Regions from separate parts of the Homo sapiens genome. Here regions 2, 3 and 4 are each reported to be linked to region 1. The links are microRNA targets in miRTarBase. Many come from high-throughput screens and were not tested one by one. Region 1 holds a microRNA gene; each other region holds the end of a gene's coding sequence.

Evidence for each region. The annotated mature microRNA hsa-miR-1266-5p reads CCUCAGGGCUGUAGAACAGGGCU and lies in region 1 at 4,826-4,848, opposite strand. An mRNA with a match to its seed (bases 2 to 7 or 8) in the 3' UTR can be bound and repressed. Matches are read on the target gene's strand: a 7mer-m8 pairs with bases 2 to 8, a 7mer-A1 pairs with bases 2 to 7 and ends in A, and an 8mer does both.
Region 2: the mRNA of TSLP is a reported target of hsa-miR-1266-5p. Seed matches in the 3' UTR shown: 7mer-A1 at 1,194-1,200 and 7mer-m8 at 1,790-1,796.
Region 3: the mRNA of GPHA2 is a reported target of hsa-miR-1266-5p. Seed matches in the 3' UTR shown: 7mer-A1 at 2,732-2,738.
Region 4: miRTarBase lists ASCL2 as a target of hsa-miR-1266-5p. Seed matches in the 3' UTR shown: 7mer-m8 at 4,986-4,992.

What each region holds. Positions count from the first base shown.
Region 1 is chr15:52,272,341-52,280,162 of GRCh38, forward strand. It overlaps MIR1266 (microRNA 1266), which reads right to left and starts at 4,860; the gene lies at 4,777-4,860. MYO5C (myosin VC) reads right to left here. Exons shown (of 41, transcript NM_018728.4): 3 at 7,169-7,334; 4 at 6,533-6,677; 5 at 3,222-3,378; 6 at 240-383.
Region 2 is chr5:111,075,453-111,083,274 of GRCh38, forward strand. It overlaps TSLP (thymic stromal lymphopoietin), which reads left to right. Exons shown (of 4, transcript NM_033035.5): 4 at 494-2,574. The coding sequence ends at 622. Among named protein-coding and RNA genes, the nearest start is that of TSLP, 7.7 kb to the left of the region's middle.
Region 3 is chr11:64,929,499-64,937,320 of GRCh38, reverse strand. GPHA2 (glycoprotein hormone subunit alpha 2) reads left to right here and starts at 1,428. Exons shown (of 4, transcript NM_130769.4): 1 at 1,428-1,487; 2 at 1,861-1,963; 3 at 2,146-2,330; 4 at 2,447-2,850. The coding sequence starts at 1,861. The coding sequence ends at 2,548. PPP2R5B (protein phosphatase 2 regulatory subunit B'beta) reads right to left here. Exons shown (of 14, transcript NM_006244.4): 7 at 6,940-6,999; 8 at 6,732-6,840; 9 at 5,832-5,885; 10 at 5,712-5,762; 11 at 5,453-5,572; 12 at 4,429-4,556; 13 at 4,075-4,176; 14 at 2,846-3,624. The coding sequence ends at 3,477.
Region 4 is chr11:2,263,656-2,271,477 of GRCh38, forward strand. It overlaps ASCL2 (achaete-scute family bHLH transcription factor 2), which reads right to left and starts at 6,933. Exons shown (of 2, transcript NM_005170.3): 1 at 6,078-6,933; 2 at 4,843-5,471. The coding sequence starts at 6,677. The coding sequence ends at 6,096.

The DNA.
Region 1 (7,822 bases):
AAATCCCCCAAATTAAAAAGTCATTAACCTTTTCCTGCAGACATACAACTCACCTGATATTACACCTATTCATCCATCAATTTTTAATAAACAGAAAAAAGAATCCAAACTGCAAATGAAAGACAAGAAAACCCTACTCTTCAACTCACAGCATAGTGTAGCTTGCCTGAGTATGTATAATAAGTATGTAAATGTAAATAATGCTCAAAAAGTTGGGGAAAAGGAAATTTAATACTTACTTGAAAGACAACTCTGGATTTCTCCAGGAGGTAAGTGCTCATGTTGGCTCCTATAATTTGATTTTGTTCATCAAAACTGATTTCTGTGTATTTCCCAAACCGACTACTATTGTCATTGCGGGTGGTCTTGGCATTTCCAACGGCCTAAAAAAAATAAGACTCTATTGAAATAACAACATTAAAAGATTTTTGCCTCAAAATTATTGGAGGGGTTTTTAGTAAAAGGCAATCCTGTACCCTAGGGGAAGGTCTGATTGGCAGAGGGAAGTCTGGGGAAAGAAAGCAACCCCACGCTGGCAGGGAACATGACAAATCAGAACATGAGCCTGCTGCTCAAGGTTCTCCTTGGTCCCACTGGCAGATACTGGGGAGGACCAGAAAGAGCACAGGTTCTGATGTTTCAGGGTCCTGGGTTCTATCTTTGCTATCTGTGTAATGTCTTAAAAGTTAATTCACTGGCTAGGTGCAGCGGCTCACGCCTGTAATCCCAGCACTTCAGGAGGCTGAGGCAAGAAATTCACTTGAGGCCAGGAGTTTGAGACCAGATGAGGCAACACAGTGAGACCCCCGTCTCTACAAAACATAAAAAAAAAATTAGACAGGCATGGTGGTGTGTGCCTGTAGTCCTAGCTACTCAGAAAGCTGAGATGGGAGGATTGCTGGAGCCCAGGAGTTGGAGGCTGCAGTGAGCTATGATTGCACCACCGCACTCCAGCCTGGGTAACTTAGCGAGACCCTGTCTCAAAAACAGACAAACAAAAAAGTTAATTCATCTTTCCAGGTCTTAATTTCCCTATCTGTAATATGAGAATCATAAGCAACTCACTGTTATGGACTGAATGTTTGTGTCCTCTCAAAATCTTCATGCTGAAATCCTAACCCTATGTATTGGTATCATAAGGTGGGCCTTTGGGAAGTAATGATGTCACGAGGGTGGAGCCCCTGGGAGTGGGATTTTAATGCCTACATAATAGGGATCCCAGAGACCTCTCTTGCTCTCTTTCTGCCATGTAAGGGTACCGTGAGAAGACAGCAGTCTGCAACCCAGAAGAGAAGCCTCTCTAGAACCTGACCCCTGCTAGCCCCCTGATCTTGGACTTCCAGCCTCCAGAATTGCGAGAAATAAATTTCTGTTGTTTATAAGCCACCTGGTCAATGACACTAAAGTATATTATACTAAAGTACATTATATTTATTATTATAATAGCAGCCCAGACTGACCAGAACACTTACAGAGTAGGGAGGATTAAATGAGAGAATATGAGGTGCCTCAACTCATTCAGGCCCCAAATACCTATGATGCTCAACTAGAAGTTCACATCTTTCATCCAACCTTTATTCCAATCCCTACTCCTTACTGCTTCCCTACTCAACCTTTCCACTCAACCAAAAAACTGCTCCTTCCCATCCCTCACACTCTCTGGGCAGGATTTTTGCTTTTTACTTCTGTTCTTCAATTTCATCTCTCCTCTGCCCCTCCCCACCCTCTCCTGAGCACCCTGTTTCTAGATGACCCAGGTCATCATGCTGCCTGCCAACATGTCTTTACTGAGCACCTACTATGTGCCATGCGCTCGGTAAACAAAGGTAAACCAAATAGATACAGTCCCGCCTTCATGGAGTGTGCAGTCTAGTAGAGGAGACAAACCCTAAATATTTACACAAAATTATCCACTGGGCATTTAACTTGGCACTGGCTCTTGATAACTTTTATTTTGAGATGGGGTCCTGCTCTGTCATCCAGGCTGGAGTGCAGTGGTGCAATCTTGGCTCACTGCAACCTCCACCTCCTGACTCAAGCAATCTTCCTACCTCAGCCTCTTGAGTAGCTGGGACTACAGACATGTGCCACTATACCTGGCTAATTTTTTGTATTTTTGGTAGAGATGGGGTTTCATCATGTTGCCCAGGCTGGTCTGGAACTTCTGAGCTCAAGCAATCCACCCACCTCAGCCTCCCAAAGTGCAGGATTATAGATGTGAGCCACCGCACCCAGCCTTGATAACTTTTCTATTGGTATCTTGGATTGTAATTTATGTTTCTAAGTAAGCCTATGCCTCTGAATTATGAGCTTTGCAGTGTTTCTTAGTACCCCCCCCCCGACATATGTTTCTATTTAATTTTAAAATATTCTTACATTAGGTTAGAAGAATCTTACACTTGGAGATTGGGTCTTATTCTTTTCCATCACTTCCCACATTAGCTAAGCAGTGACTTCAACAGAGTAGATTGTCTGATAAATATTCATTGAGGATTTTGATTTGAGAAAACAGGGAGAAGAGGTCTAGTAGTCTAATATTCTTAATTTTTTGCTTTGCTTCCAAATAAATTCAAATCAATCCTCTTCCCATTTTGCGGGGCAGCTGGAGTTGGCTTGCAGGACCCTCCTCTGTGCCTTTTGGGTGCCTCTTCTTCCTTGAGGGCTGTCTCCTCACCCCCCTGGGCACCGTCACGGTTGGCCTTGCCCACTCTCTGTCCCAGTCAGTAGTGTGCTGATGAACTGGCTCTTGGGGAGGGCAGGAGGAAGAGTCTTGACATGTGGCCTCTGCCAAGGCAGAAGGTATAAATACTTCTCCCCTGACTGATGTCAAACTACCAAAGGTTTATCAATCAGCTTGCAAAATTCCTGAATATTTTAACAATCAGCTCATGAATGCTGATGCCAGCTGGGTGGAGAACACCAGTGATTTCAGTGTACCAGTGATGTTTGGTTTCCCCTGGGATGTAAATGTAAACAGAGGACTCCTGGAGTCTGATGGTAGATTTCCAGCCCAGCAGGTAGAGCAGAAGAGAGCCTTGAAAGTAACAATTCTGCCCCCATCTCCTTCAAATCCCACCAGCAAATAGGCTTCCCGGGTCTTTCCTGCCCTCACTTCTTTAGTCTTTAAAGGGTGGGAACTTGAATTAGCCAGGAGAGCACACAAACCAACCAACCCCCATTTCCATCACCAACACCCAGCTGCCTTCCGCAGTGGTACGCACCTCGGTGATGGGATTGGATGCCAGGACCTTGTCTTCCACGTGAGCGTTGCTGCCCGATTTGCTGACGGTGGCAAAGTACCTCATGGCATAGCGAGCCGACACTGTCTTTCCAGCACCTGACTCCCCACTTACAATTATGGACTGGTTTCTGTTGTTTCTAAAGCAAATAAAAGTTTTCAAATATTAGTTTCTTCCCATTAAAGAGGCAACATGTGCTAATTAAGACAAATGTGGACAAGACAAAAGAGGGAAACTGTTTTGTCACTCTACTATTTTTAAATCTCAATCAATTTCCTTCTAGATTTTTTTTTCTATGTGATCGTGCAGAACACACAATTTTAAAAGTTCACATCTTTCATCCAACCTTATTCAAATCCTTACTCCTTACTGCTTCCCTACTCAACCTTTCCACTCAACCAAAAAACTGCTCCTTCCCATCCTTCCCACTCTCTGGGCAGGATTTTTGCTTTTAAACTCTGTTCTTGAATTTCACCTCTCATTTCATCTCTCCTCTGCCTTCCCCACCCTCTCCTGAGCACCCTCTTTCTAGATGGACCCTGTGTAGGTCATCATGCTGCCTGTCAACATGTATTTATTGAGTACCATGTTGAGGGGCCCCAAGACCAACCTCAGGTTCAATGACCCAGTAAGAGGACTCTCAGGACTCAGCATATAGTCATCCTCACAGCTAAGACTGATTGCAGCAAGAGGATACACAGCAAAAGCAGCACGGGGAAAAGGCACACGGGGCAAGGTCCAGTGGAACACGGGTGCAAACTTCCAGGGGTCCTCTCCCAGTCGGGTCACACAGGACACATTCAATTCTTCCAGCAAGGAATTTGACAGCACATGTGAAATGCTGGCTGCCAGGGAAGCTCATTAGAGATGCAGTGCCCACCTTCTGCCTAGCATATGCCAATATTCCAGACTCCCAGAAGGAAAGCACGTATTCAGCATAAAGCACATTATTTACACAAACAGCTTGAGTTTAGGTAAAATGAGCCACTTTTTCAACCAAGAAATGTCAGGAACCGTCATGAAATCAGAGGCTAGCCATGGGCCACCTTGCAAGCAGGCCTCTAAAGATAGCAGCCTCAGGCCTTATGTCAACTCCTTTCTGCACATCCCACTTAAATATAAAAACATTTCAAGGACATTATTTTGAGAGCAATTATTCAAAAGATGCTTGGGAACATATGCGCTCTCTAAGCCAACATGCTCTGTTATATAATTTAGAGATTTTTTAAAAATGCATTAAACTTTTCATGTCATAAGACTGTGATGGTGGAAGCTTCTAACATGGCTCTGTGGATGTGGCACCGCTCACATGCCAGGTGCTGGGTGAATACAGATTCTCATTTAAGCTTCACAAAAATCCTACGACATAGATATCTCTTTTACAGAAGAGTAAAATGGTGACTCAGGGGTGGAGTGACTTGACCCAGAGCACAGAGCCACAGCCTCCCATGTAAATGCTAGAGGAGACTTTGGATACAGAGCCCCGGTCCAATATTTTCATTTCAAAGAGAGAAGATGAAGACTCTGAGAAGTGAAATGACATGCTCAGTGTCCCTCAGGGCATAGAACAGGGCTTTAGTAATCCCAGCCCTGTTCTACAGCCCTGAGGGACACTACCTGTCTAGCATCAAACAAGGCCAACACGAGCCTGCTTTGGGCTCCGTTCTGTTATGGCAGTTACACAGACAGACCTCCAAGGAGAAACTGGCTCTTTAGGGCTGAAGTGAGCACAGCCCTACAGTGCCAAAGAGCTCATCCCACCCATACCCAGTCCCTAATCACCACGATACCTGGGAGACCTACAGGGAGCCAGGGAAAAATCTCAGAACCACAGGGGTTTTAGGGTTAGAAGGAATCTTGGTGCAGCGGAAGCTGCTAATTCTCTACCCAGTATGCATTTGCATTCTCCTCTTCCTTCTTAGGGACTAGGCCCCAGTGGCCAGGCAGTGCCCCTCTGTGCATTTGAAAGACTGCACATCCCAGCCTCCCTATGTGAGTGAGGTCTGCCTGACGAGCTGTTAGAAGTGCTTTGTGGGGCTTCCAGAGAGTCTCCTTAACCTGGAGGGCCATACCCTTCCCCTCATATGCCTTGTTACCTAGAATATGGAAGACAGAGGTGAGAACTGGCTTGTCCCTGAGGATGACGGCCCCACCCCAGGGACAGGGAGCTGCACGGCACCGGGTCTCTGATGACTCTGAAGAAGCTCGGTCTAGCCCCAGACTGCCCATCAGACATCTGTGCAGGAAAGCAGCACGTGTTCTACCTCATGTAAGCACCACCTGCTCCCTCATTATAAGCATCAGAACCAGGAATGGGTGCCCTCTGAGAGTCCAGCTCACAGACGAAGACATAAAGCGGAGGGAGCTCAGGAGCTGCGGCTGGGGTTATGCAGTAAAGATTTAGGTAAAGAGTCAGCAGGTCCAGGTCCTGTGCCTCAGATTTCCCATCTGTGAAATGAGGGCAATGAAGTCAGTCAACTTCACAGGAGTGCTGTAAGACTCAAGGGAGACCACTGTATGTGAAAGTTCTTTTGCAAACTGTAAAGGCAGCTACAAAGATAGGGTGGTGTTTCTATTCTCCATACTTTACAGATGAAGACACTGAAGCCAAAAGTGATAGTTATGGGAAAAATAAACTAGAGTTTAAAAATCTGAGCACAAATCCCAGATCTGCCTTTTACTTGCTGCCTACCCTGGGTTGGTTATTCCCTGAAGCTGTTTACTGCCCAGACATTTGCATCGTGGGCTATTCTGAGGCCATCCCAGATGACACATGGGAATGTGTGCACGGTGCCTCATTCACAGGAGGCTTTTCATACATGTGCACTAGTGAAACGAGAACTCCACAGGGCCCTACAAACACCTAGCAGTGAAATTAGGATAAAATTCCATGTCTCCTGCACCTAAAACCTCCTGCAGCTAAAAACCCTGTCATCAGATCCTACTTCCTGCAATGGGTAAAAAAAAAAAAAGCTTAAACGTCTCATAGCAGAGAATAAATCAACACTCCTCCAACCAAACACACTGCAAGAAAAGCATCTGCTATTCCCAGACTGGTAGGACTGACTTGACTACCTTGAAGGAACAAAACCCAGGAAACTCCAGTCTTGACAGGTCAGGTACATGGAACAGTCGTTTGCTATTCATTCCAGGTAGTCGGCTCAACAAAGCACCACCTCTGGCCTATCTCTTTTAATGAGCCCAACCTAGATATCTCCCCTCCACTGTGATGGTCTGGCAAATGCAGGGAGCATTGGCAGAGCAAGGGGAAGTCCAGCTTGGCAGGAAGCTACCTGGCCATCTGCTTGTATGCCTCTTCTGCCACGGCAAATATGTGTGGGTCCATATCGCCCATGTTCTGCCCGCTGTAGGCGTGGATGATGGCATCTCCGTATATTGGCAACTGCTTGTAAGGATTCATGGCCACCAAAATGATTCCTGGGGAAAGATGTTAGATGCAGTTAAAATACTCTTACTGCCACCTGCATCTCCAGTTTTTTTTTTTTTAAGAAACCCCAGCTCTGTCGCTTATTAAACCTTCTGTGTGACTTTGGGCAAGTCACTTCACGCACTGAATTAATTCCCTGCCAGTCACCTACACCCTCGGGCTGTTCTGACGGTTGGTTGACAGGACAGGTGGAAATGCTCGCAAATGGAGAGGTTTTTGCAATTTGCAGTGTAAGTAATATCATTGCCCAAAATAAGTAATAAATGTATGAAATCTGATGAGAAACTCAAACACGAGCTTTGTTACATCTCTTTTTCTAGGTAGTCCAGTCTTAGTTCTTGTTGAAGATTCTCCCCACCCAGACACTTCTTTTTACAACAAACTCTGGGTGCTCAGTATAAACATAAAACAACCAGGAGGCTCTAGACAGCAAGCTTACATTCCAGTGCCATTCCTTACTTCCTAGAATTGCTCTCCTTACCACTGTAGGTGTAAATGAGTTTGGATTCTGCAAAGCGGATTCTGAGGTTGTGGAGCACCGCGGGCTCGTGAAGATAGCTGAGAGCCGTGAGGTCATTCTCGCCCACGAGGATGTCAGGATTCCGAAGTGGAGGCAGAGATTCTGGATTGACAGAATAATCCAGCTCCTATGGACAAAGATAAAAATTAAAGCTCTGGAAATAAAAGATTTTTGGTGTTTCTGTTGAAGCACTGTCCTTTGTCCTATCCACCCCTCCATCAGAGTCATCACTGACATTAAAAAGCAAATGTACTTATAGCAACAAGAAAATCTTCACAGCTGACTCCTGGAATAATGAAAAGTAGGAGCAGGGGACTAGGGCACTGGCTATGTGCACTGGGGCAAGTCACTCACCCTCTCTGGGCCTCACTTCTCTCATCTGCGAAGAGGAGCTAGAGCAGGGGTCCTTAGATCTACAGAGGCCTCAATAAGGAGTGTTGGGGAAGCTACAAGGGCAGAGATCCAGGTGCCCCATTCCTGAATCTCCCACCAGGGCTCTACCTATATGTGGTTTAAATGTTGAGGCCATGCAAGTTTTCATTTGAAAACAAGATGCTGCAGCTAAAATGACACAGTGACCTACGGTCTCTTTAACTCTAAGGTTGTTGAGTCTCT
Region 2 (7,822 bases), not on the chromosome of region 1:
AATGATGTCTATAAACAGGTATAAGATAGCTCTTGCCCATGAGGAACTTGTGATCTTGTCAGGGAGGTCTTGAAATCAGCAATTTATTCATTTACTTAATCACTCAACAAATATTCAGTGTTTCCTATGATTAAGACACTGTATTCAGTGCTATGGGGAATACCTATGATGCAATATAAAGAAAAGCATGTTAAGTGAGAGCCAAGTTAAATGACACACACTCTTAAGTACTGGAAGAGTTTCCAAAAGCAAGGTCTGAGCAATTAGTGGAGGCTTTTTGAAGGAGGTGGTGCTTGGCCTTGAAGCAAAAGTAGGTGGGTACAGAAACAGGAAGGCATTCCCCTGGAAAAGGCACATGCTAGCACATAGTAAGCAGGTGCTTTGGAGACACACTGAAAGATGGATTTGCATAGAGAAGGCAATTAAACCTGCTCTCAACAGTTACTAAAGATAGTGAAAAGTAATTTTGACTATTGATTCTTATATTCTGCAGATAAATGCTACTCAGGCAATGAAGAAGAGGAGAAAAAGGAAAGTCACAACCAATAAATGTCTGGAACAAGTGTCACAATTACAAGGATTGTGGCGTCGCTTCAATCGACCTTTACTGAAACAACAGTAAACCATCTTTATTATGGTCATATTTCACAGCACCAAAATAAATCATCTTTATTAAGTAGATGAAACATTAACTCTAACTGTGACAAAGAAGACCACAAATAGTTATCTTTTAATTACAGAAGAGTTTCTTAACTTACTTTTGTAAGTTTTTATTGTGTAAGTTTATAATGCAGGGGAAGTACTACTCCTCAAATGTTGAGGGAAGCTTCCATAACATTGATGACTGGCTTCATGGCAGTAATTCTCGGCTGTAGTTGCATAAGCATTGCTCAAGAGGAAAATCCAAAAGTGCAGCAGGAGAACTCTTTTCCCTGAAAAAGGAAAAATATTGAACTCAATGATAGCACCTAAACTTACATTTAAAAGACAGACATTCCTTCTACATGTAATGACACTTCTTGTGTTAAACTAAAAATTTACAAGAGAAGAAAGTGAAAGCAAATGGGGTTTCACAAATAGTTGTAAATATAGTGAAGCAATTTGAAATAATTTTCAAGCAAAGTATTGTGAAAGTATTCTAAGCCAAGTTTTAAATATTATCTAACAGACAAGAGTGGTATATACAAGTAGATCCTGAGAAGTACCTTTGTTACAGCTACTATAAATATACATATAAATTATAGAATCTACTTTAATTTATTTTGTGAACACTTTTGAAAATGTACATGTTCCTTTGTAATTGACACTATATATTTCTTAATAAAATAATTCTCAAATTTGTTTCTTATGAATCATCTCTCAAATCTAGTTAGACAATTTGCACACATACTTTTCTAAGGGACATTATCTTCCTTCAGGTTTTTACCTCCACTCATCCTTAGAGCCCACTGACTGCTCCCCTTTATACCTGTTGGCCCTGCCTATAGGAGAGAATATTTGGAGATAGGCAGCTTCAGGATGCATTGCAATCATCCTTTTCTTAAATTATGTCACTAGTCTTTTATTTTTTCCCCTCTTGAACTTTCCTCACACCTGGAAGAAACAAAGTAGGAAAAAGTGAACAGGGGATGTCAAATCGATTCTTGAATTCCCGCTGCAAGCTAGAGCCGCAGGCACCCTCTCACTCAATTTCCACTCAGAACCCTATAAACACCAGTGGGAAGGGCAACCCACTGCACGTGGGAATGCACTGATTTTTCCTAGGAGTAGACATGTTCCTCTAATTACTCCCTGAGGGTTAGTTGGGGCTAAACCATGACAGAAGTGGGGAAGTTCAATGTCCTTAAATCCATCTTACTTGCCAACAGGTAAGAGGAAGCTTACATTACATGTCCAGTCCACATTTAAAGAGCACTTACTGTGGAACAAGCCTTCAGCCAAACAATGGGGATAGAAAAGTAGGTAAGACTCAGCCTTTGTCCAGAGAAGCTCAGGGTATAGCTGAATAGGCAGTTTCTTTTGTCCTGAGGAAAATCAGGACATGCCTGCTTTCTAAAAATCTTCCTCTGAAGACCTGACCCAAGCTCTTAAATGCTATTGTAAGAGAAATTTCTTTGTCTATTAACTCCATTTTAGTAGGGATTCACTGACTAGATTTTACTGAACTATGAAAATAAATACACATAATTTTTCACAAAATTTTGGGCCCAATTCCCCTAAAAGAATTGAGGATTAGGGAGAAAGGAGACAACTCAAAGTCATCCCATTAAGTGCAGTTTCTTTGAATCTTCTGCTTTATCTTTAAAAATTTGTATAATTTATATATTTTATTCTATGTGTTCCATAGATATCTTAATGTAAAATTAGTCATTTAAATTACACTGTCAATTAAAAGTAATGGGCAAGAGATTGCATCATACTAATTTAGTAAGAACGTTCCCAAATGTTGTAACAATGTGGATCATACATCTCTGGTTTTTTAAATGTATTGAGGCTTTCTTGGTGGACTAGTATAGTATACGGTCAGTTATGTCAATGTTTCATGGTCAATAAAAAGGAAGTTGCAAATTGTGATTTAAGCATATAAAGTTGGTTATATACATACTGAGACTACATTGTTAGTTATGCTATTTATATAATCTATATTCTCACTTTTGTCTCCTTCATTCAGAGAATAAGAGAGCTGTATGAAAGTCTACTGCCGGCCGGGCGCGGTGGCTCATGCCTATAATCCCAGCACTTTGGGAGGCCAAGGTGGGCAGATTTCAAGGTCAGGAGATCGAGACCATCCTGGCTAACACGGTGAAACCCCGTCTCTACTAAAAATACAAAAAAATTAGCCAGGCATGGTGGCGGGCACCTGTAGTCCCAGCTACTCGGGAAGCTGAGGCAGGAGAATGGCGTGAACCTGGGAGCCGGAGCTTGCGGTGAGCCGAGATTGCGCCACTGCACTCCAGCCTGGGCGACAGAGCCAGACTCCCTCTCAAAAAAACAGAAAAAACAAGAAAGTCTAGCTGATATAATTCTTTATTTCTTTGTATCCATAAAGTTTTGCTTTCCTGTTGCTGAAACCATTTTTATCCAATGCCTAAAAAATCAATGGAGCCATTTATTGATCATTATACCCTTACCATTACAACATTTCCACATCTTATTTGCCAAGTAATCTATGCTCTCTATTAAACTCTTTCTGGGTCTCTTTGCTTTTGATATTTCTTATACATAGCATGTCATTTTAGTGTGTGGAGGTGGGGAGCGAGAGGGAGTGGATGAATTCCAAACAAAGGCATGTTTACTTTTAGTGCTGTTGCTGCATTTTTAAGTTTTCTGTTTTCTTAGTTCCACATTATTTGTATAATTTTAACCTAAGAACAGATCTTTACATTTATTCCTTTTAACCATTTCTTATCGGTTTTTGTCCTATCCCCTCAGCATGTTGATATCTTGAGAGTTTGGCTCTTGGTTCTATTATTACATAACTCTCCCTCATAGGCTTTCTATTGCTTAATTCAGTTTTTGAAAAAGTGTTGACCAAGGCAGGACTAAGCCCTCCTTACCATCAAAGGAGGCAACTCTATAGGCTGGTAAAGTTATTTGTCAATGTTCTTTGTTAAAAAAGAAAAAAAAAGTTCCTTTAAGAATCAAATATCAATTTTTTCATTCTATCCATATCAAAATAAAGGTGAGGGGAAATTTATCAAATGCTTTACTGAAGTCAAAACATACTAAGCCCATATCAAACCTACAGATCAAATAAATTTATCTAAAAATGGGAATTTTAAAATATTTCAATTATATTCCTTTCTAAATCTTACAAGCCAACTCTCTGAGAATTATACCAGACAATAACATTAAACTGATCTGAGATTTTTTAGTATTCTCTCCTTTTTATTATTCAAAAGTACTAGGTTTTCTCAAATGTTTTTGTTCTAGCTGTAGCTCTGAGAATATCTCTTGGCTTTTGTCTGGCATTGCACTTTGTAAATACACCTATACTTTTTGATACCCAGTATTTACAGATTACCAAATAATATAGTTTCACTGATGATTATCATGCAAAAGTTATTTATATCTAAACACAAAGGATAATAGCTCATATACAAAGTTAATTGCAAATTGAATTTTTTGAGTCTCAGGTTCTACATTTCTAAAATAAGGATGATGCTTCCTGTATTTTAGGGTTATTATTAGAATTAAAGTACATTATAAAAATAATGTCCTTGGCAAATGGTAAGGAAAATACTTTAAATTTAGTTATTTGAATGCCTATTTGTAACCATTATAAAGATTTGGAATAAAGACTGTTACACAGCCTGTCAGTAACTTTATTTTTAGTTTTCTGTCTAGGACTGCTTTGTGGCAATAGAAAGAAGGTTGAAAAGTTTAAGCACACAGTTATTGACAGCCTAGCAATTTTGAACTCTACCAAGATAGCAGAGTTCATAAGACAGAGTACCTCAGGTAAGAGGTGCACAGAGAAAGAAGCTCAGAGACCTGTAGGTATATCTCTTGAATATTTAGCTGAGTACTTTTCAGCACATGGCTGAAAACTCACATGGCTATGAGAAAACTACCCAACACTGGGGAATGAGTCACTTGAAAGGTTAGAGGGAATAGTGTCCATTACTTACTGAAAGCCAGGAAAATTGCCTATTTTCATCCACTAGACTGGAATATCTCACAACTCATTAGGCATTGGGTAGGGCACTCAGGAGAGACTTACTTTAGTAATTAATAATAATTAGCCCAAGGCTAATTGCTGCAATAATCCCGCATTAGAAATCTTAAAAGTAAGACTTGAAAGAATCAAACTGTTTCCAAGTAACTTAGCTGAATCCTACAATAAACTTCAAGAATATCTGTAGAAATAAAAAATACCTAGGACCCAAAAAGGAAAATTCACAATATTTTGTATACAACTAAAGATTATCAGACATGAAAAAAGTGAGAAAATATAACACATGATAAGGGGGAAAAGTGAAACTGATTCAGAGCTAACATCGAAGTTAGAATTAGCAGACAAGGACATTAAAATGGTTATTGTAAAATGGTTATTGTAACTATATTCAATATGTTCAAAAAGTTAAATATAGACACAGAATACATAAAGAAAATCCCAGTCCAACTTCTAGATATGAAATCTGTAATGTGTGAAATGAAATGCACAGTGAATGGTAATCATGAGAGATTAGATGTTGCAAAAAATAAGATGAGTAAACTTGAAGACATACCAAGGGAAACTATCCAAAATAAAACACAGAAGGAAAACAATAACTTAAAAATGAAAAGACCATCAGAGAGCTGTGAAACAACTGCAAGTGCCTAATATACATGTAATAAGTCTCTTTAAGTAAAGAGGTACGGAAAAAAATATAGGAAGAAACAATGGTAAATTTCCAAACTTTAAAAAATTCTAAACCCACAGTTCCAAGAAGCTCATTGAAGCACAAGAAACAGATAAAACTACACTAATGCTCATCATAATCGAATTGCTCAAAACCAGAAAATCTTAAAAGCAGCCAATGGTATTGTAAAGACCTTCAGCATGTTCTTCTTAGGATTTCCTCTCCAGAGCACTTCAACCCTTTCTCCTGTACTTCGTATATAGTATTTCATGAACAATGTCATGATATAAGTAGAAAAAAATTTTACATTGGTTGGCCTTAATTATTGATTTCTACCTGTTAGCTTCTGTTTAAGTAGGAGGGTGGGAAGATTCTTTTCCATTCTCCACTATTCTTGAAGTAAAGACAAGGATTGTCATAAATGAAACCAACACTTACTGAGTAGTTTTATCAGTTATTTTTCTTATACTACCTTATGAAATATTTGCAACAATCCTGTGAGCTATGTGCTATCCCCATTTTACAGATGCAAGAAAAGGCTCAGTGAGTGAACTATCCAGTGTAGCACAACTAGTATGTGTAGCATCTGGCTGATTCTGAAGTGCACACTTTCTATTACTTGAGATTAAAGTTTGAGATTTTAAAATAAAAAATGCCTTCCACTAAGTGGAAATTATCCTCATTACCTAACTAATAGATATTGTAGTTGTCTCCTCAACATGGATTCTACCACTTCTTAATTTTGCATCTATTTCCTCATCCACCAGAGGGCTTTAGGGATTGATCCCAGCTCCTGGGATGGATCTGGATTAGTCTAACCTAGTATGGGTGTCCCAATATCCTTGCTTGGAGTTAATAGAGGTAACCAGGCTAATATTGATAAGCATATTGGTAAGCAAGTACCTTGACTCTGGTCTTATTCAGGATAAACATATAGCCACCTTTGGTGATGAACAATAAGCATAAGGTTTTTGAGGGGAAACCCTGAAAAAACGTTTCCTTACTTTAAAAAAAAAAAAAAGGCAGTAGAGTGATAGTCTTCCCCTCTCATGAGATACAAACAAAGAAGCATGCAGTGGCAATTACAATTAGCAATTATCCTAAGACCAGGATTGAGATGAAGCCATGAATGGCAGAGAAACAAGAAGGGAAGAGCCTGAAGCTTTAAATATATAATTACACAAGTAGATTAATCAACCTTACCCTCACCCTCCTTTTGATTTCCAATTCCGTGAGCTACTTAAGTAAAGGTTTTGTTTTGGTTTTTCTGTGTGGGTGGTTATTCTTACTGATTAATGCTACAACTTACCTGAATGCCAAGACAAGGCAAATTAATCTTGATTTAATTTGAAGTGGGAAGAAGAGATGAGCAAGATGAAGACAGGCCCCAGTATCTTAGGGAACAAGCCAAAAATTATGACCTGGGATGGTAAGGATGCAGGAAAAGTAAACATGTAAAGAGGATGCCATTCTTTGGCATATTTCACATTGTTTCCTGCTGTGGCTTGAACATGTGTCCTATCCAAAATTCAATTTAAAGCTTAAATCCCCATTGTATTTGGGGAAGTGATTAAATCCTGAGGGCTCCACCGTCATAAATGGATTAGTTCCTTATAAAAAGGCTGGAGGAAACTAGCCTAGTCTCTTCTGTTCTTCCCATCTTCTACCATGTGAGAACACACTGTTCATCCCCCTTTGCCCTTTCTGTCATTTCTGCTATGTGATGACACCTAGACAGTGCTATATATGAGGAACAGACCTTCACCAGACACTAAACCTACTGGCACTGGCACCTAGATCTTGGACTGCCCAGCCTCCAGAACTGTGAGAAATCATTTCTGTTGTTTACAAATTCCCCAGTCTCAGGTATTTTGTTATAGTGGCACAAATGGGCTAAGAAACTTTCTATAAACAACTCTCATGTCAATAGATCATTGCCTTGGCAATTAAAGCTGAGATGCCACTTTTCAAGATGGTGCTCATAAATGCAGTATTTGTATGCCCCTATACTCTTCCCTCTTCTACTCTCCCTTCTGCTAGCTATTCTTGTGTGGAAGAGAGTGGCAGGGCATTCCAAATTGTATTGAGGATGAACTTAGATTGTGTTTGGAGCAGATATCTTAGATATAAAATTTATGGGATGATTCAGGGTATATATCAAATGGATGTGGAGTTTGAGGAAGATTTGGTAATATCTTTTTTTTTTTTTTTTGAGACGGAGTCTCGCTCTGTCACCCAGGCTGGAGGGCAGTGGCTCGATCTTGGCTCACTGCAAGCTCTGCCTCCCAGGTTCATGCCATTCTCCTGCTTCAGCCTCCCAAGTAGCTGGGACTACAGGTGCCCGCCACCACCCCCGGCTAATTTTTTGTATTTTTAGTAGAGACAGGGTTTCACCGTGTTAGCCAGGATGGTCTCGATCTCCTGACCTCGTGATCCGCCCGCCTCGGCCTCCCAAAGTGCTGGGATTACAGGCGTGA
Region 3 (7,822 bases), not on the chromosome of region 1:
ACTCTGACTAGCTTACAGTGAAGCTTTGGGAAGTTGTTTTCCGCTGAGCTCTTATTTTCTCATCCAGAAAATGAGGGGGTAGGATTTGGTGAGTTATAAAGTGCCTTCTAGCTCTAGCAGTCTGTGACTGGCCCTGCTCTTTCTGAGCAGATCAGTGAGGCAATGACCCCAAAGCGGGGCTGCCCAGAATCACCACAGGCTTCCTTTGGCTCTCCACCTTGCCCCAACCCCTCTGGCCACTGCTGCCTGGGGGTCTTTCTCCAGCTTGCCACATTCTTGCTCAAGTGTAGTTTAGCACCATGGATGGACAGCAGATTTGAATTTGAAATCAGCCCTAACATTAACTAGCTGGGTGACTTTTAGTAACTTTCTTTCTTTGAGCCTTAGTTGCCTCATCTATAAAACCAGAGTTGGACAAATAGATCAGCTTTGCTGGGGTTGATAACTTCAGGCCCTTTCAGGAGTCAGGTCCCTGTTATTCCAGGGCTAGGGGAGCACTCCAGCTCAGAACGTTACTCTGTAGCACAGGATGCGAATCATCCACTGATACCGTGGCCATGCAACTCTGAAACAGACAGCAACCCCCAAACCCCCGGCCCTGCCACCAAGCACATCTCAGGAGACCTCCACTGGTATAATTTCCCTTGTCCCTAAGAATCTCCTTCCCCAATCCCTTTCCTTTGCAGTTAGAAAAAGGCAAGCAGGACTGAGTTTAGTGGTTTTAAAATTAGGGGTGTGGCCAGGCACAGTGTCTCATGCCTGTAATTCTAGCACTTTGGGAGGCCTAAGCAGGCGGATCACTTGAGCTTAGCAGTTCAAGACCACCATGGGCAACATGGCAAAATCCTGTCTCTACAAAAAAATACAAAAGTTAGCTGGTCATAGTGGTGTGCCTGTGGTCCCAGCTACTCAGGAGGCTAAGGGGGAGGATGGCTTGAGTCTGGGAGGCTGGGAGGTGGAGGTTGCAGTGAGCCGAGATAACACCACCACACTCCAGCCTAGGTGACAGAGCCAGACCCTCTCAAAATAATAGTAATAAATAATAATAAAGTTAGGGGTGATCAGGCCCTGAACAGGGAAATGTTCTGTCCAAGGTCACAGAGCAAAGAGAACCCAGGTGTCCACAACTCAGCCAAGAGTCTTGACCCCTGTGTCGTCAGCTGCACACACGCTGCACACTCCACCAGCTCCTAGGCTTCTCTCCACATCTGACTTATCGAGGCCTGGGCTGTGGGTAGCTTTTTGGACAGAAAGAAGCAGAAAGCAGCAGGAGCTGCTCTCCGAGGACCGCACCTCAAAGAGCAAGATCCCCCAGGTGGGATCGCTCTGAGGCTTCAGGCAGGGGAGGCTGGTTTGAAAGCCGATCTCCAAGAGGGCGTGGCTCCAAAATGCTGGCAAATAAAAGCCTGGAGAGCCAGCACCAAGCTGGAGACCAGCAGGAGGCACAGGAAAACTGCAAGCCGCTCTGTTCCTGGGCCTCGGAAGTGGTGAGCTCGCTGAGGCAGGAGGAGCTCTGGGGAGGGTCTGGGAATGTGGACGAGGGCCCTGCAGGCCAAGATGGGGCAGATGGAGGGAGGAAGATGTTTGCGCTCCAGATGGCGAAGAAAATTCCAGGGAAGGGAGAATCACTGCACAGAGGGCTGACACACAGGTCCTTTCCAGAGACAGCTGCTCACACTCACACCCATACACACACACACACACACACAAAGGCAGATACAGGGAAAAGGCAGCACCATTCAGGCACACCTCACCTGTCAGACCAGCCAGCCCTGGCTCACTCACCTGGAATGCAGTATTTAAAGAACTCGCCATCCCACCTGCACACCCACGTAGAGACATCTCCCCACTGTGTTTCAGATGCCTATGGCGTCCCCTCAAACCCTGGTCCTCTATCTGCTGGTCCTGGCAGTCACTGAAGCCTGGGGCCAGGAGGCAGTCATCCCAGGCTGCCACTTGCACCGTGAGTACCTCTGGGACCGGAGGGCTAGGAGCAGTGGAGGTTCTGGGTGGGAGCAAAGAGCTGAGTGGACGGTGGGGCAGGCAGCACCCTAAAGGGCCCCACACTGAGGCACAGGCAACGGGAGCTGGGGCGAGGCAAACCTTGGCAGAGGCGCCGTCTACTGCTTGCCTATCTCCTTCTAGCCTTCAATGTGACAGTGCGAAGTGACCGCCAAGGCACCTGCCAGGGCTCCCACGTGGCACAGGCCTGTGTGGGCCACTGTGAGTCCAGCGCCTTCCCTTCTCGGTACTCTGTGCTGGTGGCCAGTGGTTACCGACACAACATCACCTCCGTCTCTCAGTGCTGCACCATCAGTGGCCTGAAGAAGGTGAGGAGGGCCCGGGCCCGGTGGATGGACGCTGGGGTCGCGGGAAGACCAGAGAGATGGAGATCCTAGACAGCCCTGAGAAAGGGGACTGCAGCACGGACTCCCCTCTCCCGCAGGTCAAAGTACAGCTGCAGTGTGTGGGGAGCCGGAGGGAGGAGCTCGAGATCTTCACGGCCAGGGCCTGCCAGTGTGACATGTGTCGCCTCTCTCGCTACTAGCCCATCCTCTCCCCTCCTTCCTCCCCTGGGTCACAGGGCTTGACGTTCTGGTGGGGGAAACCTGTGTTCAAGATTCAAAAACTGGAAGGAGCTCCAGCCCTGATGGTTACTTGCTATGGAATTTTTTTAAATAAGGGGAGGGTTGTTCCAGCTTTGATCCTTTGTAAGATTTTGTGACTGTCACCTGAGAAGAGGGGAGTTTCTGCTTCTTCCCTGCCTCTGCCTGGCCCTTCTAAACCAATCTTTCATCATTTTACTTCCCTCTTTGCCCTTACCCCTAAATAAAGCAAGCAGTTCTTGAATTTCTCTCTTTATTAAGTCTACCCCCAGCCACGGAAAGAGGAGTAGACCATGATTACTGTGAACCCCCCCTTACCCCAGGACACTGTGAATCTCTTCTTGCCTGTGCCCTCCCCCTCCCCCTGCCCAATAAATAAAAAGGGGACAAGGAAGTACACAGCGAGGGAAGGGAGGAGTGTGCACCCAGGACAGTGTCTGTGTAGAGGGTGAGCTGGGCGAGAATAAATAGACCATGGACCCCATGGTGGGGATAAGGAAGGACCTCGCATTGGCCAAGGCAGGGGCAGGCGAGGCGCTGAGTGCCCTTGCCCAAGGCCAGGAGCAGAGGGTGGGAGCCCGCCTGCAGCTGGAGCCTAGCTTTGCGGGGCAGGGGAAGATCCCTGATGGCAGCTTCCTGGTCAAGCTTGCCCTTGTCAAGTCCTGCCACGAGGGGCTGAGCATTCTGTTGCCAAGACCACCATTGCCTCTCCTCGTCTCCCCCCAGTGAAAGCTGGGCTGGGCAGGGAGTCCTCAGAAGCCACTCTGGCAAGGCCAGGGGTAGGTGTGTTTCTCTCTGGGCCCCTGGACAGGAGAAGGGATAGAGGGACTGACAGCTCTGGGTTTAGCTTTTCCCCTTCTGAGGTGCTGTCTAGCTCTGACCCCCACTGGCGGCCACCTGGGGTGTAAGCCGCTGGAGGGGGGCCTCCTTGGCCCCCTGGGTCCCCTGTAGCCGGCGTAGCCGCAGCTCCTCCAGACCTTGCCATAACTCCTGACGCTCCTGGGCCTTCTGCTGCTCCCTGGGGAGAGAGGGTGAGGCAGCTCCCTTTCCTGGGGCCCCCCACAGTCCAGACTCCCTCACAGTCCAGACTCCCTCACTACCACCCCACCGGCAAAGGGAAGGCATGGAACCATTTTTGTTCTGTGACTCCATAAAAACCCTCTACTGAGGGAAGAGAGCAGAGGACAGACAGATCCCAGCCTGCAGTCACAGAGAAGATGACGGGTGGGGCCTGAGTGGTTCTGGCTTCTGTAGGAAGCTACAGGGAGTCAGAACAAGTCTGAGCTACTCGAAGAATGACGGGAGGATACAGGGGCAGACAGTCAGGCATAGGATGGCAGGAGCATGGACAGTCTTGCAGCATCTGATCAGACAGAGTTTGGGGTAGTCCTCGGGTTCCCTCCAGCCATGGGGGTCTGACTCCTCCCTGCTCTTCTCCCTTCCCCCACGCCCAGCCCCCAACACTCACTGCTGCTTTTCCAGCTTGTAGGAGGCTGTGAGCTCATCAAACAGCTTCCCATTCATCTCCATGAAGGTCTTGAGCACATTGTAGATCAGTGATACGATGGTTCTTGGCAGTGTCAAGGAGGGATGAGGAGATGAAACAGCTTTGGTTTGCCCACCTCTCCCTTTCCCTGCCCTTCACATACAGCATTCCACCTGAACACAAGCACTGCCCACTTTCCTGTCCTTTTCACCACCCCTGGGCCATCTTTTGATGCTTTCTCTGATATTCTCCAGCTAGGAGTAACCCTGGGGTCGGGTCTGGACTGGCTGGCCCTGGTCCCAGTTTCTGTGAGTTAGGTCATGGCCTGGCACTCACTGGTTCCAGTGCTCCTTGGAGACTTGGTAGAGGGTCCCAAACACAGCAGGCAGCACAGTGTGGCAGTTGTCCTCAATGAGGCTTAGGATATACTCATTGTTCCAGAAATACAGAGCCCGCTCTGCAACCTGGGGCAGACAAGATGGCAGAGTGATTAACTGGCAGTGGCTTCTCTCTGTGTGCAAGGTCTGGTGTCCATCACTACCTCAACGCCCAGGCCCCCTGACCTTCACACACCCCACCTTCAGGGCTTATCTGAGCCCTGGAGGAAGCAACAGTGTTGAAGGGAAAAGAGTTCTAGATACGGAATCCAATGCTGCGGGGTGAATCCTAACCACTACAGACTCTACTATGCCATGTGACCTTGGGAGAGGCATTTAACCTCCCAGCCTCAGTTTTCTCATCTGTAAAATGGGCTAATAATACCTATCTCAACAGGATGTTATAAGAATCAAATGAGATACTAGACTTTTAGGTGTTTAATGAACCGAAGTGCCAGAATCACTGTGAGGAAGACTTGACTTCCACTGGGTTATGGCCCATAAGAACGGGAGGAAGTCTGCACATGCTTGCAGCAGAACATGAGTTAGTTAGCTGGGTTGGTGCGGGGAAGCCTGGCTGCATCCCAAAGCGAGTCTAATGAAATCTAAGGCCACTAGCAAAAGGGGAAAAGTGATAACAGTCCTCCATCACATTCTGGATCACACTTCAGTTTACCAAACATGTTTACACTCACAATCTCTTCCATCCTTATCCCCACCCTGTGAAGAGGTTGTTGGCCCATTTTACAGCTGCGGAAGCTTAATCAGAATCAGAGTGGTGCAGTGATTTGCTCAAGGCCCCTCAGCCAGTGGAAGGCAGGTCCGAGGCTTCACCCTAGGTCTCCTGACCCTAAGTCCAGCATCTCCCCATTACCAGACCCGGGATTGGAGGAGAAACTGAGGGCAAAGGGAGCTTTATTAGGTCAGCTACCCAACCTTTCCAGGCCAGCCCTGCTCCCATCCCCGCCTGTCCTGCCTCATACCTGGAAATGGGGGCTGGAAACACAGCGAGCCACCTGCTTAAAAAGGGGCTCCTGGATCTTCACAAACTGGGAGGGCTCGATGACATCAAGAATCTCTTCCATCTCCCCCAGAAACATCACCTGGGTGGGTTGGGGAGGGGAGTAGGGACAGAGGGGCAGCAGCTCACATCTCCCCCTACACATACACACACCTGACTGCCTTCTAGAGGCCGAGCCCTCCCAGCCTCCCTCTGGCGGGCATCAAAGCCCTTCTTCATACCTCCTTCTGGGTGCAGGTTTTTGGCCAGTATTTGAGCAGCCCCCGGATCACCTGTGGGAGATGAGACAGGAGTCACGCCTGCAGAGGTGAGAGGCTGCCTTAGCCCCCAGAGGTACTCACGTGCTCTGTCAGAGTGGCATCCTTCTCCAGGAACTGCACCACACAGTATGCCAGCTGCAGGGGGTGACAGGTGGAGGGAAGGAAGACAGGTCAGGAAGGCACCAGGCGCCAAGGACTTGCTGTCCAGGACAGAATGCCAAATACTGCTCACCCACGGCCTGTTACTTTCTTATTCACCAAGCATTTATCACCTGCCTAGGATGTACCAGGCATCACATTCAGTGTGCTGGGAATACAACTCTGATCTCGCGGGGAGTGGGGACAGTCAACAAACTCATCTTTATAAATTTTGCAAAAGGTTCCATAATATGGCTAGTGTGGTGGCTCACGCCTGTAATCCAAGCACTTTGGGAGGCCGAGGCAGCAGAATCACTTGAGCCTGGGAGTTTGAGACCAGCCTAGGTAACATAGCAAGACACTGTCTCTACAAAAAAAAAATTTTTTTTAATTAGCCAGGCATGTGGCACATACATCTGTGGTCCCAGCTACTCGGGAGGCTGAGAAGGGAGGACTGCTTGAGCCCAGCAGGTAGAGGCTTCAGTGAGCCATGTTCATACCACTGCTCTCCAGCTGAGGCAACAGAGTACGGTTTTGTCTCAAAAAAAAAAATTGTGTATCAAAATCTCCCATAATAGATTTGTGTATCCAAATATTTGGGAATATAGATGGAGAAGAATGTAATTCTGCCAAGGGAGGGTAGAGAAGAAAAGCCTGGCTTCACAGAGCTGATATCTGAGGTTAGCCTTAAAGCGCCAGTGGGAATTTTCTAAGGTAGATGGAACAGAATTATAAAGACAAAGAAGGTGAGATAGGATCCCTGGAGGATCTGACCTCCAGGACCCACTGGCTGCCCTGACTGTCTGGAGCTCCTGCTGCAGCAGGGACAGGCCTGGGCCTCACCTGGGCATGGAAGACAGACAGCGACTTGACAGAGTGCAGGGGGATCAGGACGCGAACCAGGAACTGCTTGTGCTCCGTCTTCAGGGGCAGCGCAAAGCCATTGATGATGCTGAGGAGGAGGCAGAAGAGAGGAAGAGGGCTCAGGTGACCTGGCCCCAGTCCCTCCTTCCAGAATCCTGAGCTCCAGCTGAGGCCCAGGGAGAATCACCTTCCTAGGATCTCCAGCAGCTCAGCCACACCATTGAAGTGCTCGAATTCATAGATGAACCTGCAAGAGAAGAACGCAGGTGGGCTCAAAGCAAGCAGGGTAGGCCCAGTGCCCCCTTAGGCATCCTGCCTGCCCACCCTCACCTGCACGGCACGCTCATCCAACTCTCCCCCAACCCAGAGGCTGCGCTCCCTTCCCAACATCCCAAACCAGGCCCCATTGAGATCCCCGCCCCCCCACACTGAAATGCCCTTCTCAGCCCAGCCACCTCTGCCACTGAGTCCCAAGCTCAAGGCTCTCTTGCCAGTCAACCAAGAGAATGACAAACACTTAGCACATCTACTCCGTACCATGTAAGTCTCAGAATTATCCAGGGAGATGGGGCTTAAGAAATCCATCACATGGATGAAGAAATCAAGACTCAGCGGTTAAATAAAACAACCCCAATGTTAATAGGCAGGGAATCTAATGAACTCCAAGGTGCAGGAGGACAGGGATCATGGCTCACCCATTTTGTAGCTAATAACAACTAATGTTTCAGAGTCCCGGCCTCAGTCCAGGAGCTATGCTGAGTGCTTTGCAGGCAAGGCCCCATGTCACCTCGATAATGGTCCCTGAGTTAGTACAAGCAGCATCCCCATTTTTATCTTATCTTTGAGATGGAATCTCGCTCTGTCGCCCAGGCAGGAGTGCAGTGGCGCAATCTTGGCTCACTGCAACCTCCACCTCCCAGGCTCAAGCGATTCTCCTGCCTCAGCCTCCTGAGTAGCTGGGATTGCAGGTGTTTACCACCACACTCAGCTAATTTTTGTATTTTTAGTAGAGACGGAGTTTCACCACGTTGGCCAGGCTGATCTTGAACTCCTGATCTCAAGTGATCTGC
Region 4 (7,822 bases), not on the chromosome of region 1:
TTCTGTGGGCTCCCAGGTGGACCTGGGCCACCCCTGAGACCCCGAAGAGCTCAAGGCCAGCTAATAGCCCACAGGCTCAGGACAGCACTGGACAGGCCTCTGGGCCCACCTGGCCCCACTCCCGATTTTTATGGGAACAAAGACTGAAGGTGTGGCCCCAAAGGAACCACCCCTCCCCCAGTGCCCCGCTGCTGGGAAAAGGGTCAGCAGAGTTTGGGTCTCCCCCCACAAGCCCTCTGGGCTGTGCGTGCTACAGCTGAGGACATGGCGTTGAGGGGCAGGCCGCCTCCAACCCCGTCCACCTTGCCCTGTCTAGCTCTGTCCAAGGCTCTCTCCGGCTGGCTAATCACCTCTGGGCACAGCTGTGCTGCTGAGGTCTCTGGGATGACTGAAGGTCTTTGAAGGCCACTTTGGGAGAAGCGAAGGTGCATGGACACCAGGGACCCTGCTCACAGCGAGTGTCCCTGCCCCATCCCTTTCTGCATTGAGTGGGACAAGCTTGCTTCCATTTGGGGGATCGCCATCTGACTATTCCACTTGTCTTAGGGTGGGGCAGAGATTAGGTGATGTGGAGGGGCTTCTCTACATGGCCCCCCTGCCCCAGCTCTGAGGGGTAGCACCAGAGTGGGTTTCACCAGCGTAGGGCACGTAGGCCCCGCCATGAACAGGGCCCCAACCTTGGTTTAATGCTTTGCTACTGCCATCTTAAAGTTCTTTTTTTATTTTTTATTTTGCTTTATTTTTTATTAGAGATGGGGTCTCCCAGTGTTGCCCAGGCTGGTCTTGAACTCCTGGCTCAAGCAATCCTCCGGCCTCAGCCTCCCAAAGCACTGGGATGACACGTGTGAGCCACCTTGCCTGGCCTTTGGAATCTGACTACTTTTATCTTCTAACTTGTTTTGCAGGTGCAGGCCAACGGCATACAGCAGCACTCACATAAGCAAAGGAGAGCGTGCACAAGGCGCCAAATGTATATCCACCCTCACTCGTCCCCCCACTTGAGTAGCGCATCCACGATGCCCACAGACACCAGGCCACACAGAAAAGGTGCCAGGGACCCACAGCAGTGCAAGGCAGCGTGTCACACCTACGCATGAGCAAGCCGGGCGCTGATGGCCACCGAGCAGCCACGTTTTCCATTCAAATCCGCACTTGCTAAGGATGCAGCAGGAAGCCAGTGGTGTTCTAACAAACGTGCAGGACCCGGGAACCTGTCATGTCCTTTCTTACTTGTGCGACTTCTCTGTGTTAGCCGAGGTCTCTTGCTGATGGATCTACCCACAGTGCCTTTTGTCTTTGAACTTGTCCCTTCCCTCCTTCCTCGCCCATCAGCGAGCAGGAGGTGGAGGGTGCTGGTGGAACAAGCCTGCGTCAAGGAGTGAAATCAGCTGATTTCATTTTTGTGCAGTTTCCACTGTTCTAGTAGCAAATGAAATAGAGACGCCTGTGCCAGGACAAAACACACACTGTGTCATTCCAGTGATTCCGCATAGAAGTTAAATGCTCTTATGCTTGCATTTTAAACTGGCATCACATAATATAAAGATGGATAACTACATTCACGCTAGTCACTTAAATTCCTAATCTTTCTTACTCAGAATGGCATTAAATAGTGAGTATAAAATAAGAAGTATAAAATAGTAAGTCAAGAGGTTGACTATAGAAGAAAGAAAAATGCTTTATATTTTAGCACCTTGAACATGACATCACGATCACCTTCTCCCTGGAATCAGTTTCTAACTTCCAGGTGGGGACTAGGCCTGGACCATGAGCTCCTAGCAGAGCCCTGCTGCCCCCACAGCAGAGCCCAGGACAGGCTGGCACCTGGGCCAGGTGAGGCTCTGTCCAGGCTCACTGATCTCAAATGCTGAACTGCTAAGGATGTCATGTCCCCAAAGGAGCCGCCAGGCTCAGCCTCACTTCCTGGAAGGCGTGAACATTGCAAGAATGTGGAAGTGAAAGAGTCCAGGGCTTAAATCTCAATTCTCATCATTTTCAAGCTGAGTCCAAGGGAGAGAAGACAGTCATGGATTCTTAGTTTCTGTTTCTGGTTGAGCCAGCAGGGTCCCTTCCTCATCCCTCTTTTCTGCTTATCACTAGAGACAGAAACTAAAACCATGACTTTAGGCTGCTGAGAGCCTAAAACAAAACGACAGCAAGAGAAGGTGGGTTGGACCAGCTTGCCTGTGACTTCAGGCACTTCATCTTTACTGGGCACTGGGTGAATGACAGTGTGGGGAGGGGTCTTCATAACACGGCAATCAGCAGCCCACTGTGCCCAGGAGACTCGCCTGTGGTCCTGGTTATCAACCACAGCCCTTTCCAGTCTCAAAAATGTCCCCGCTGGGACAGCAAGTTACATCGTCGCTACAAGTCCTGTCTCCTGGGAGATGCAGTCCAGCAGCACTACATCCTCTGAGCAGCAGGTGCCAAGTGGGATGAACTGGATAAGGACTGCATTCGGGGAAACGCCCGTGTGAAAGGAAATACACAGGAAGGAGGTGGCAACGGGTGGGAAGCCACTAGACCACGACGCGATTCTGCCCCAGTGAAGGCGAGGGGATAGCCTGGGCCTAGATCGCTGTGAGGTCTATGGAAGTTTCCACAAGCTTGCTGGGTAGTTCTCGAGGCAAACTCGGAAAGGGAGTCCCTTGTCTCCCTGGAACGGATCTTTCTTGGCATCTCTGTCACACTCATTAGGTGGGCCTGGTGTCAACCCCATTTGCAGGCCACCCCAAACTTGATCAAAGGTCCGCTTCTGGCACCCCATACCCTGTCCTACAGGAAATACAGGGACAGGCTCCCAATAACAACACCCAGCACGGTGCCATCAACACCACCACGCACACGGGGGCTCAACGGAACAGACATCTCCGCTTCTTCAATGAAGACACTGGAGGGAAATTGCTTACAAGGCGCTTAAGAGACCTATTAAGCAAACTTGATGTGTGGACCTGCGGCGGATCCCGATTCTATAAGGCCAACTGCACAAAACCACGAGACCCCCTGAGGACTGCGCCATTGGCTGGGTCCCCGATGATATGAAAGAACGGTGGTTCATTTGAGCGGGTGATGTTTTTGCGGTTTCCTTTAGAGGCACACGTGAAACATGACGGGTGAAAGGATTCAAAGTCTGGGATTTGCTTCAAAGCAACGCAGGGATGGCGTGGGGGATGGATGGGGCAGGAAGGGCCTTGAAACTGGTGCTGGAGGCTTCCCAGGGCTGCCCTGGAGCCCAGTGCGTCCTCCACCGGCCAGACTGTACAACGGTTGGATCCTGTGTCCACTGCTAGGACCCAGGCTCCACGAGCACGGGCTTGTGTGGCACACGGATGCACCCTAAGTCCTGGCACAGAGACTGCTCAACAAAGGCCTCGGTGCTTTTGTGTATGTTTGAAATTTTCCATAATAAAATGAAAAATGGGAAAATGGGAAAACAAAAATGGCAGCACTACTTACCCTCTGCAGAGTTTTGTCCGCTTCACGCCAGTGGGTGGCAGTCGTTTCCTCTGCCCTGGCCTTCCATCGTTTCCCCCCTACCCTCTTCACCCACCCAACAGCCCCCTGTGGTCCTGGCAGCTGTGGGCCTTTCCTTGAGGTCAAGGTGTGGAGTCCTGGGGAGGGCTCAGGGAGGCCACCGACCCGGGTGTGGATTCTGGGAGAAGCCTGTGGGATGTCCCTCCCTGGGTGACCACGGCAATGTGCCCCCTCCTGTCCCTTGGCCAAGGCCAGTTCCCTGAGCCCTGCAGCCCCAAGCCACAGCTGGTCCACTGACCCCAGTTGAGCCTGGTCCTCATCAGACCAGCTGACCCCTTTGACCCCCGCTACAGACTCGGCTTTGACCTTGGCTGCTGAGGAGCCCCCACCTGGACTGAGGCTGCAGCTGGCGAGAGAGGAGCCCTGAGCTCCTCTGATAAGAAGGGACCTGGCCAGCCTGACGTTTGAGACCCAGGCATCCCGGTAGCCTGGGTGTCCTGTTGCCGTGGTTATTCAGGAGCCACCCACTCTGGGACAACACCAGCTGCTCCCACCTCGCAGGGCTCCCACGGCTCTGTCCCAACCACTCCTTTCTGAAGGAAGGGGTGCCTCTGCGCCCTAAAGAAACCGGGGGAGCCCCACAACCCCTCCCCCACCAGGACACTAAAAGGCAGCTTTCGGTACAGTGAGACATCAAAGCCTCCTAGGCCCTGAGTCAAAGGTATAGCCGTGTAATATCCCAGTGCCAGCTCTCCGGCTGCGGGGAGCCTGGCGCAAAGCTTCCAAGCCTTCCTTGTTCCTTTCAAGAGCCGCTCTTAGAATTCAGGTGAGCGGAGACCTGCAGGGCCTCCCCAGTGCGGGCAAAACCCAAAGCTAGCGAGAGGGCAGCCTCCAGGCACCTCTCACTAACTCCTCCCAGAGGCCGTTGAGGTGGGTCTGGTCAAACCCATTTGCAAGTTAACCCACTTGCCCTGGGCTGCCCAGCTGCCACGTTAGTGGAGATCTGAGCGTGGTGGCCTGCGCAGGAGCCCATGCCCTCAGCCCCACAGCCGGTGCTCTCTGGTCAGACCACCTCAGCCTAGCCCCACACCCAGCACTTACCCCAGCCCTCGGGATGGGTCAGCAGCCTCCAGCCTGCAGCTTCCAAGCCAGCGAGTAGCCCTGTCTGGACAACCCACCAGCCCACCACCTCCTGGAGGATGCCCCCAGCCTCACAAGGTGTCCCAATGGCTCCGCTATCAACGGCCTGGCTGCACTCCAGATCTCACCCAGACCCACCCTACGGAGGAGGCAGCAGGGTTTGAGGAGTAGTGACCACGGAAGTCTGGCCGTCACCTGGGAAGTGTAGGTGATAGGAGCCACTGGTAAACAGAACTGATTTATTTATAAAGTTCACGCTCCCTTGAAGAGGTGTGCCCCACACAGGCTTCTCCCTAGCAGAGCAGCAGTGCCCACAAACCCACCCCAGGGTGGGCTGTCACGGGGGCCTCACGCCAGGGACCCCGCCCCTCAGGGACTGCTCGTGTCCAGATCTTGGCCAGCATGGAAAACTCCAGATAGTGGGGGCAGGGGTCCAGGTCATCTTTATTACGCCCCAGGTCAAGGGTTCTTTGTACAAAAATAGGTCTCCGTTTGCCAGCAGTGTCCCTCCAGCAGCTCAAGTTAATGTGTAGAAAATGGATTCTCTGTGCCCTTAGAAAATCCTCTCCCCTCCGGAAAAATCTCCAAGTGTTGGTGCCCCCCGCCCCACTGCAGTCGAGAAGCTGTGGGGAGGGGCGGCGTCGGAGGAAGCCGCCAGCCCTTATGGGGCCAGCTCCAAGCCCGTTTCCACCGCGGCATTGGTCAGGCTGGGCCGGACGAACGAGGCGGCGTCGGCGGTGCGGGGGGTGGTGGGTGGGTCCCCGGCTCGCTGGGGGCGGAGCGCGGGCCGGTCCACCTGGCGGGCTCCCCGGCGATGAGCGCGCCGGCCGCTCGCTCGGCTTCCGGGGCTGAGGCTGCGGGGGGAAGGTGGGGAACCAAACGCGCGTCAACGCGGGCGCGGGCCCGGGGCAGACCCCGCCCGGGCCGGCCCTGCCCGCACCTCCCCCAAGCGAAGTCGGCAGTTTCGTTTGCTCGGTTGGTTTTGGAGTCTTGAGTCCGTGGGTGCCGCGACTCGGTCTGAGACACGGCGGGGGCGGGGCGGGCGCTCGGAGCCGCGGTGAGTCAGGGCTCCGCGCCCGCCGACTCATTTCTGCCGCCCCGGCCCGGGAGCGCGATTTGCAATGCAAAGTCACCCCGCCTCCAGCACCCCAATCTGCCCCAGGATCCGCCAGCACTAGAGACCTCAACGGCCCGACGGCCGCTCCCCTCCCCTCGTCTACCCCTCCCTCGTCGGCGGCTGAGCCGCGAGGGGAAGTTTTGCAATCCCGGACAAACAAACGCCGGTCTTGCACGGGCTTGAAAAACTTTGGGGGAAATGAAGAGTGAGCGAAATCGAAGCCATCGCTCGGGCCTGGCGCTCGGCTCCGCGGGCTCCTGGGGGCGCGACCCGCCGGGCCTGCCCACCCCGTCCCTCCACCCCGGCCCCCGGCCCTCCCTCCTCCCTGCCTCCCGGCTGTTACCTCATAGGTCGAGGGCGCTCAGTAGCCCCCTAACCAGCTGGAGAAGTCGAGTAGCTCGCGCTCCGCAGGACTCAGCGCGCCTTCGCAGCCGCTGTCGTCCGACGAGTAGGCGGAACGCGGGGAGCCGGGCTCCGAGCTGCCCCCGCGGCCCGGGGACGAAGAAGCGCGGGAGGGCGAGGCGGCGACCGGGGTGGTCCCTGGCGGCCCGCGGGGCGCAGACGGCCGCACGGCCTGCGGCCTCAGCCCTCCCGCCAGCGCGTTGCGCACGGCGTCGTGCTCGGCCAGCAGGCGCTGCAGCGCGCGGATGTACTCCACGGCTGAGCGCAGCGTCTCCACCTTGCTCAGCTTCTTGCTGGCGCCGCCGTGCGGCACGTGCTGCCGCAGCGCCTGGAAGCCCAAGTTCACCAGCTTCACGCGGTTGCGCTCGCGCTCATTGCGCCGCGCTACGGCCGCTGCGCCGCCTCCGGTCTCTGCGGTGGCCGGTCGCCGCCGCCGGCTGCAGCGCAACAGTTCCGGGGACGCGGGTCTCCGCCGGGCAGCGCAGCCGACAGGGACGGGGGGCGCAGGGGGCGCGGACCTGGGCAGTGTGCCGCCGTCCATCGCGCCTGCATCCACCCGCCCGCTCCAGGTCCCGGCGCGCCGCAGGAAGGTGCAGGCAGAGGAACCGGAGGCGACGGGGAAAACTGTGGCGCCCCAAGGGGGCTTCTGGCACGGCGCCGCCAGGCAACTCCCCAGGGCACGCGTCCTAGGTCGTCTGGAGCCCGGGGATAGGAGGCCTAGTGGTGGCAGGCCGTACGCGCCAGGGAGCGTGGGACGCTCGTGTCCCGCGCGTGCGGCCGGACTCTCCCAGGTCTCCGCAGGCGCGGCGCAGGCGGCTGGTTTTTAAATGTATAGATAACCCTCCTCCGCGCCGCCGCCGTCGCCTTTCTCACGCCCTCCTTCCTTCGCCTCGCCCTCCCGCCACGCTTCGCCCTCCCCCTCGCGCGATCACATTCTGTAAGGCCCAAAGCGTGCGCATGTCCCCCTAGCCCATCCCCCGGACGCAGTCCACAGATCCCCAGTGCGCCCAACTGGCGAAATCTGCGAGTTCCCGGTGCGCCCCCTGCTCCCGGCAGGTGCTTAGTGCGCCCCCAAAGCAAGGTACGCAGGTCCTGGGTTGAGCCTTCCCGTACCCCCACCCTAACCCCGCGCGCAGCCCCGCCAGTCCCAAGAGCCGCCAGACCTTCGCACGCGCAGCGCGCGCTGTGGGAGGGAAGGCGCGGCCCTGGCGACAACACGGCTGTTCGGGAGGCGCGCAAGATCCCCGGGGGCAGCACGCGCCGCGCAGCCCACACCCACGCCCCACCCTCCTGGGGCCGAGGAGGCGGGGGCCAGGGTCTCAGCCAATCGTGGGCCACCCGTTTGGCCAATCGCGCAGGGCGCGGCTCCACGCCCGGCCCCATTGAGGAAGCGCGTACGCGTGGCGCGTGGCTCACGGGGAGCATCGCTAACAAAGCTGGGTTCCTGCTGGGCCCCGCCCTGCTCCTCGCCCCCGCGACTGGGCTGGGCGCGCTGTCCCCTAGCGCAGCTATGTCCCGAGCGCGCCCCCACCTGTGCGTTAATCTACTGGGAATGGGGGTGGACTGCGCCTTACCTGGGGCGGGGTGGGGCTTAAGGAGTGGTCGAGACTGAGGCGGGGTGGGAGGTTCAGGTTCCCGGGGCGCCTTCCCCAACCCGCCCCGCTTTCCCCGTCCCTCCACGCGCAC